2 linked regions of the Homo sapiens genome follow. The protein of the gene in region 1 purifies or fractionates together with the protein of each later gene. This does not show direct contact. Each region holds a gene or a part of one and is shown in the gene's direction. Other genes may lie near its edges.

Region 1 (4,488 bases):
TGGCCTGGCTGGTCTGGAACTCCTGACCTCAAGTGATCTGCCCGCCTTGGCTTCCCAAAGTGCTGGGGTAGCAGGCGTGAGCCACCGTGCAGGGCCCCTCTTGTAATGATTTCTAATGTGACTAAAAACATTTTCCTTTATTCCCTCTTCCTCCCCAAATATTACATGATAAATATACATTAATAGAATACAGAAAAATAAGCATTTATGGTAATGTCATAATTTTATCGTCATTAATTAGAAGTGGTTCTAAGCAAAAGTGGTCATGTAGTCTCATTACTTGACAAAAGAAGTCTTAAGATCAGCTCTTTAAACTTCAGGTTGTCTTTTTTGATTGGCAGACATCCTCCAATTTAACAGGCTCATAACAACCTTGTAACAGCTCAGCTTATTTTATTGGAGTACACTTTACAACTAGTTCATCTTGGTAGATCCACTTGAAAGCTAATGCTTTAAGTGGATATTCTTGGCTTGTGATTTTTCTTTTAATGTCCAAAGTGGGCATTCAGATTTAAATGTGTACCTGTTACTTTATTTCAGCCACATTCTCTGGCACAGAACTTTGGAAACTTTGGGGATCACTTACTTATCTTGGAGATAGAATGTTTTCTAAGGTATATTTGAGCCTACCTGTGGATTATGCCTTTACTCGTTGCTAAAGGGAGAGAAAGAGAAAAGATATGGCTTTCATTTTAGGTTTCAACTTTCATAGGAGGCTGTCATCAACTCAGAAAATGTAGAAAATTTAAATATCTATTAAAGCATTGGGACCATTCACTTAGAAACCTAGAATATTTGTTAGCTAAGGATTGGTTTGAAGGATACGTTTTTATTCCCCTAAGCCTGACTACTTAACCAGGTTGTGTTTCAGGACTGCCTGAACAACATTATTTCATATTCTTTTGTTCTGCTTCTGGAGAAGATATGTATTAGTTCTAAGGTAGTGCAGGGACGTGTATATTTTGAAAGGGTTTCCCAGTGATTGTGATGATATGGTGTCTCTTGTCACAGATCACTGTTCTAGTTACTATTTATAAGAATTATCTAAAATACTTACAATACAGATTCTAGGCCCCCACTCCATAGCTGGAGAATCAGAATCTCTATGGGTAGGGCCTTCTACATCCTGTCTTTGGGTTAAACCAAACCTTAGGAATGCTGCTTATTTTGTGTATGTGCATGTGTGTGTTCTTGACTGCTTTCCCTTAGAGGTATTTAGGTGGAAAAGCATCATGAAATTCGTTATTTTACTTAAGAGTGTTCTCCTATGAGAGGGATTTTTCTGAAGTCTCGGTAACAAGAATAGTTGTGTTTCCCCTGAGCAAGTTGTTTTGCTTTTTTTTTTTTTTTTTTTTTTCCACAGAGACTTGCTCTGTCGCCCAGGCTGGAGTGCAGTGGCATGATCTTGGCTTAGTAGCTGGGACTACAGGCGTATGCCACCATGCCCAGCTAATTTTTTGTATTTTTAGTAGAGATGGGGTTTCACCATATTGCCCAGGCTGGTCTCGAACTCCTGAGCTCAGGCAGTCCACCCACCTCAGCCTCCTAAAGTGCTGGGATTACAGGCATGAGCTACCACGCCCGACCATTTTGCTTTTTTATATGGACACTATGAATCATGGACTGATAGTGTGTTACACTTAGCAGCAAGGAAGCTCTGAGCCAATTTGTAGCCTACCTTTGCATCAGGGGTGGCTTAATCAGACTTAAAGACCTATTTGAAATTCTCTGCCTAAGTTGGAGTCAAAACTGCTCAAGGTTCAAATAGTATTACAGACCTGTTTAGTCTTTAACTATTAAAAAGAACTACCATGTTCTCACTCATAAATGGTAGCTAAATAATGTGTACACATGGACGTGGATAATGGAGTGATGGGTAAAGGAGACTTGGAAGGGTGGGGTGGAAGAGTGGGGTGGGAGGGAGTAGATGAGAAATAATGAGTACAATGTATGTTATTTGGGTGACGGATACCCTAAAAACCCTCACTTTGCCACTATGTGGTCTATGCATATAACAAAATTGTGCTTGTACCCCATAAATGTATACAATTATTTTAACCTCCATGTCAGAATCCACCCTTCCTTATTTAGTGAATTGCTCCTTTATTCAGTGATTCTTAACTGAGGGTATGCATACATCTTTGGGGCTGAGTGGAAGAAGGTGGTGGTAGTGAGATGCCCTTTCTAGGGATACAAAATGTGCTAGATTTGTTTGTAACATACATTATTGAAAACAAGTTAAGCCATAACTATAATTCACCAATAAAGGACTTACAGGTGTTCATAACTTGTCTAAGCTCAAATCTCCCATATATAACTTGCTGGCAAATCATTTATTCCAGGGCATTAGCTATGAGTTGCTAGCTTTAAGTTGAACTATATCCTGTCATGGCTTACTTCGAATTGACATGCTGCAGGCTGTATCTTGACATATACAAGATAGCATGTGATGTGGCTTTGTTTTAATTCAGTTAGCCACTGGTTTTTAATGTGTGGGTTATATTTTACTCCCAAAGCAAAATTCTGTGGCATCTCTGGAATACTACCTGAGAATTTTTGTGTGCCATGTCGAAGAAACGCAAATGGGATGATGACTATGTTCGCTACTGGTTCACCTGTACAACGGAAGTAGATGGAACTCAGCGTCCACAGTGTGTGTTGTGTAACTCAGTATTTTCAAATGCTGACCTCAGACCATCAAAACTGTCAGACCATTTTAACAGACAGCATGGTGGTGTAGCTGGGCATGATCTCAATAGCCTGAAGCATATGCCAGCACCATCTGATCAGAGTGAAACCTTGAAAGCATTTGGAGTTGCATCTCATGAGGATACTTTATTACAAGCATCGTATCAATTTGCGTATTTATGTGCCAAGGAGAAGAATCCTCATACAGTAGCTGAAAAGTTAGTGAAACCTTGTGCACTGGAAATAGCACAAATAGTTTTGGGACCAGATGCACAAAAAAAGCTTCAGCAGGTACCCTTATCAGATGATGTGATCCATTCTAGAATTGATGAAATGAGCCAGGATATCTTACAGCAAGTTCTAGAAGATATCAAAGCCAGTCCTCTTAAAGTGGGTATTCAGCTTGCTGAGACAACTGACATGGATGACTGCAGTCAGCTAATGGCATTTGTGCGCTATATAAAAGAAAGAGAGATCGTAGAAGAATTTCTCTTCTGTGAACCATTGCAGCTATCCATGAAAGGAATAGATGTGTTCAATCTCTTCAGAGACTTCTTTCTGAAGCATAAGATAGCACTTGATGTATGTGGCTCTGTTTGTACTGATGGTGCCTCCTCTATGCTAGGAGAAAATTCCGAGTTTGTTGCCTACGTGAAAAAAGAGATACCTCATATCGTAGTTACACATTGTTTATTGAATCCTCATGCACTTGTCATAAAGACATTGCCTACAAAACTGAGGGATGCTCTGTTTACTGTGGTGAGGGTAATAAATTTCATCAAAGGGAGAGCTCCAAATCATCGCCTATTTCAGGCTTTCTTTGAAGAAATTGGCATAGAATATAGTGTCCTCCTTTTCCATACTGAAATGAGGTGGCTTTCCCGAGGCCAAATACTTACTCACATTTTTGAAATGTATGAAGAAATAAATCAGTTTCTTCACCACAAGAGCAGTAATTTAGTTGATGGCTTTGAAAATAAAGAGTTTAAAATTCACCTAGCATACCTTGCAGATTTATTCAAACACTTAAATGAACTCAGTGCATCTATGCAGAGGACTGGGATGAACACAGTATCAGCTAGAGAGAAGTTATCTGCTTTTGTTAGGAAGTTTCCATTTTGGCAAAAACGAATTGAGAAAAGAAATTTTACCAATTTTCCTTTTCTTGAAGAAATAATTGTTTCAGATAATGAAGGCATATTCATTGCAGCTGAAATAACACTGCATCTGCAACAATTGAGCAACTTCTTCCATGGATATTTTTCCATTGGAGATCTTAATGAGGCAAGTAAATGGATATTGGATCCATTTCTTTTTAATATCGATTTTGTTGATGATAGTTATTTAATGAAAAATGATCTTGCTGAATTACGAGCTAGTGGCCAAATCCTAATGGAATTTGAGACAATGAAGCTTGAGGATTTCTGGTGTGCCCAATTCACAGCATTTCCAAACCTGGCAAAGACAGCTCTAGAAATCCTTATGCCATTTGCAACTACATACCTTTGTGAGTTGGGATTTTCATCACTTTTACATTTCAAAACAAAGTCCAGAAGCTGCTTTAATCTGAGTGATGATATCCGTGTGGCTATTTCAAAAAAAGTTCCTCGTTTCTCGGACATCATTGAACAAAAGCTACAGCTACAGCAGAAGTCACTGTAAGCTGATATACTTTTTTAATGAATAATTTCAATCTTAATATCATTGTAAAATTAAGCTGTAATTCTGTCTCTTTCATATTTATGATATACTGAATTCTATGTCTAAAAAACTTAAGAACTTTAATTTTGAATGAGGCAT
Region 2 (3,500 bases), on another chromosome or scaffold:
CTGTCACCCATCCCAGTAGTCTTTGCCTACTTATTATTAGTACAGGAACTGAGAGTTTGTTATTGTGAGAACACATACTTTATAGAGGAATGGGGCATTTGGCAAACACCATGATACTTAGCACATTAAGACCTTGATTTCTGGTGGTGATACTAACAATATGTGTATATAAAACATAAATGGGCCACAAATTGACAAATTAAATATACAGATCTTAGTGTAGTTGCTATAACAGTTTCCTTCACCTTAGAAAGTAAATCACCTATGGTGTTTTTAATTCTAGGGGACATAGTGAGCCTGGAGAAGCATCATTTTTACCTTGTAGCTCTCAATCATCAGAAGGTAAGCTTACTTTTAGATGATGGAAGACTTATTACTAAGACATATTATTAAGACTATTACTATCTTTTTCTGTCCTGGAGAGGGGAAAATTTGAAGGTGAAATTAAAAGTAGTTCTGCAGGTTGGGTTATAGGAATCCCAACTTTGGTTTAGAAGAGACTAAATTCAACGGGAAATAGATATCCCATTTAAACTCCCAGAGGTATCACCATGTCCCCCTCAAAATTCCCACAGTGCTTTGCTCACTTTTCTGTTATAATCTTGCATTATACTGCAATTAGTTGTTCATTCAACTTGCTTTCCAGTAGACAGTTCTTTAAGGCAGGAATGATGTTTTATCCATTTTTCAGCCCTAGCAGCTAACATTGTTCCTTGTCAATTGTGACACTCTTGGACAAATTAACGAAAAGTATTGGGGGAGTTTTTGCTTATCTGTGTGAGTTTTTCACCACAGGAATATATTAATGTATTATTTGTAAAAATAAAAATCTTAGGAAACATTGAAGTAGTATTGCTGTGGAGATTAAAGTGGCAAGAGACTGGAGTCAAGGGTTACTAGTCACAATTGTGCCCTCAGTGACTCTACACATTTGATTCAAAGAGCATCATGAATTACATATGTAATGCAAGGATGAGTGTTTTCCAACTTTTTTGGATGCAGCTAGTCTGTTTCTTTTAAGGAGAGAACTGTGAAATTATTTGAATTGAAAGAAAGATAAAGTCCTCAACTGAATTTCTCCTTTTGCTGTTACTTAGAATCCTCTAGACAGTCCTGTATGAGTGTACCTGGAATGTCTACTGGAACAGTACTTGGTGCTGGTAGTATTGGAACAGATATTGCAAATGAAATTCTGGATTTACAGAGGTAATGTTTTATTGCTGCAAATATTTTCAAAAGTAAAAATATCATATTTATAAAATCAATATACAAAAATCAGTAGCCTTCCTATATACAAATGATAACCAGTTTAATATAATGGAAAATATTATCTTTACAGTAGCAACAAAAAGATATAAATTTTATAAGAAATATTCATACCAACATGAAAAAAAACTTTAAAATTCACAAAGATATATAAAAAGATAACTCATATAACTTCAGATATAAGCTGTTTTTCAACAGGAAGGCAGAATTGTAAGAATTGTCCTGTTCCTTAAACTAGCCTGTGAATTTAATGTGGATCTAGTCAAAATACCACCGTGTGGCCAGGCATGGTGGGTCATGCCTGTAATCCTAGCACTTGGGGAGGCCGAGGCAGATGGATTGCTTGAGTCTAGAAATTTGAGACAAGCCTGGGCAACATGGCAAAACCTCATCTCTACAAAAAAAAAAAAATTAGCTGGATGTGGTGGTGCACGCCTATAGTCCCAGCTACTTGGGAGGCTAAGGTGGGAGGATCACTAGAGTGGGGTGGAGGGAGAGGGGCTGGTGGGGCAGTGTCAAGGCTGTAGTCAGCTGTGATCCTGCCACTTACTCCAGTCTAGGCAAAAGAGCAAGACCCTGTCTCAAAAAAAAAAAAAAAAAAATACCACCATGCATTTTTTTTTTTTGGAATCCAACAGATTATACTAATCACATTAAAATATCTAGAAATTTATGAAAAATAATAGTAATAAAGTGAGACTAATGCTGTCAGATATTAAAATACGTTATAAAGCTACAACCACTAAAACATTTTAGTGCAACCCACAAATAGATCAATGTAAAAGATTATATTTCAGAAATACAATCAAATGCACATGCAAATTTATTATATGGTAAAAATTAAAAATGACACCTTAAATCAGTAGGTAGAAATGAATTAAACATTAAAGGGCATTATGATAACTGTATAACCATTTGGGGAAAAAATAAAGCTAGACTCCAACTTTATTCTTTACACTAAAATAAATTACAGATAAATCAGAGTTCAAAGTAGAACTATAAAACTAAAGCTTTTCGGGTGGAGCCAAGATGGCCGAATAGGAACAGCTCCAGTCTACAGCTCCCAGCATGAGCGACACAGAAGACGGGTGCTTTCTGCATTTCCAGCTGAGGTACTGGGTTCATCTCACTGGGGATTGTTGGACAGTGGGTGCAGGACAGTGGGTGCAGCGCACCAAGCGTGAGCCGAAGCAGGGTGAGGCATCGCCTCACCCGGAAAGCGCAAGGGGTCAGGGAATTCCCTTTCCTAGTCAAAGGGGTGACAGATGGGCACCTGGAAAATCGGGTCACTCCCACCCTAACACTGCACTTTTCCAATGGTCTTAGCAAGCAGCACACCAGGAGATTATATCCCATGCCTGGCTCGGAGGGTCCTACACCCACGGAGCCTCGCTCATTGCTAGCACAGCAGTCTGAGATCAAACTGCAAGGCGGCAGCGAGGCTGGGGGAGGGGTGCCCACCATTGCCGAGGCTTGAGTAGGTAAACAAAGCAGCCGGGAAGCTCGAACTGGTTGGAGCCCACCGCAGCTCAAGGAAGCCTGCCTGCCTCTGTAGACTCCATCTCTGGGGGCAGGGCATAGCCAAACAAAAGGCAGCAGAAAACTCTGCAGACTTAAATGTCCCTGTCTGACAGCTTGGAAGACAGTAGTGGTTCTCCCAGCACACAGCTGGAGATCTGAGAATGGACAGACTGCCTCCTCAAGTGGGTCCCTGACCCCTGAGTAGCCTAACTGGGAGGCACCCCCCAGTAGGGGAAGACTGACACCTCACACGGCCAGGTACTCCTCTGAGACAAAACTTCCAGAGGAACGATCAGGCAGCAACAATTGCTGTTCACCAATATCCGCTGTTCTGCAGCCTCCGCTGCTGATACCCAGGCAAACAAGGTCTGGAGTGGACCTTCAGCAAACTCCAACACACCTGCAGCTGAGGGTCCTGACTGTTAGAGGGAAAACTAACAAACAGAAAGGACATCCACACCAAAACTCCATCTGTACGTCACCATCATCAAAGACCAAAGGTAGATAAAACCACAAAGATGGGGAAAAAACAGAGCAGAAAAACTGGAAACTCTAAAAATCAGAGCGCCTTTCCTCCTTCAAAGGAACGCAGCTCCTTACCAGCAATGGAACAAAGCTGGACAGAGAATGAGTTTGATGAGAGAAGAAGGCTTCAGATGATCAAACTACTCCGAGCTAAAGGAGGAAGTTTGAACCCATGGCAAAGAAGTTAA

The links.
Region 2: the proteins of FAM200C (region 1) and BMAL2 purify together in Homo sapiens (affinity purification with mass spectrometry; 2 studies listed by BioGRID and IntAct, with this or other methods). This does not show direct contact.

The regions. Positions count from the first base shown.
Region 1 is NC_000005.10:160,393,568-160,398,055, reverse strand, and holds part of FAM200C (protein FAM200C), read left to right. Parts: intron 1-540; exon of another isoform or gene 541-614; intron 615-2,516; 5' UTR 2,517-2,565; coding exon 2,566-4,350; 3' UTR 4,351-4,488.
Region 2 is NC_000012.12:27,402,336-27,405,835, forward strand, and holds part of BMAL2 (basic helix-loop-helix ARNT-like protein 2), read left to right. Parts: intron 1-283; coding exon 284-342; intron 343-1,097; coding exon 1,098-1,206; intron 1,207-3,500. UniProt on the Homo sapiens protein: Transcriptional activator which forms a core component of the circadian clock.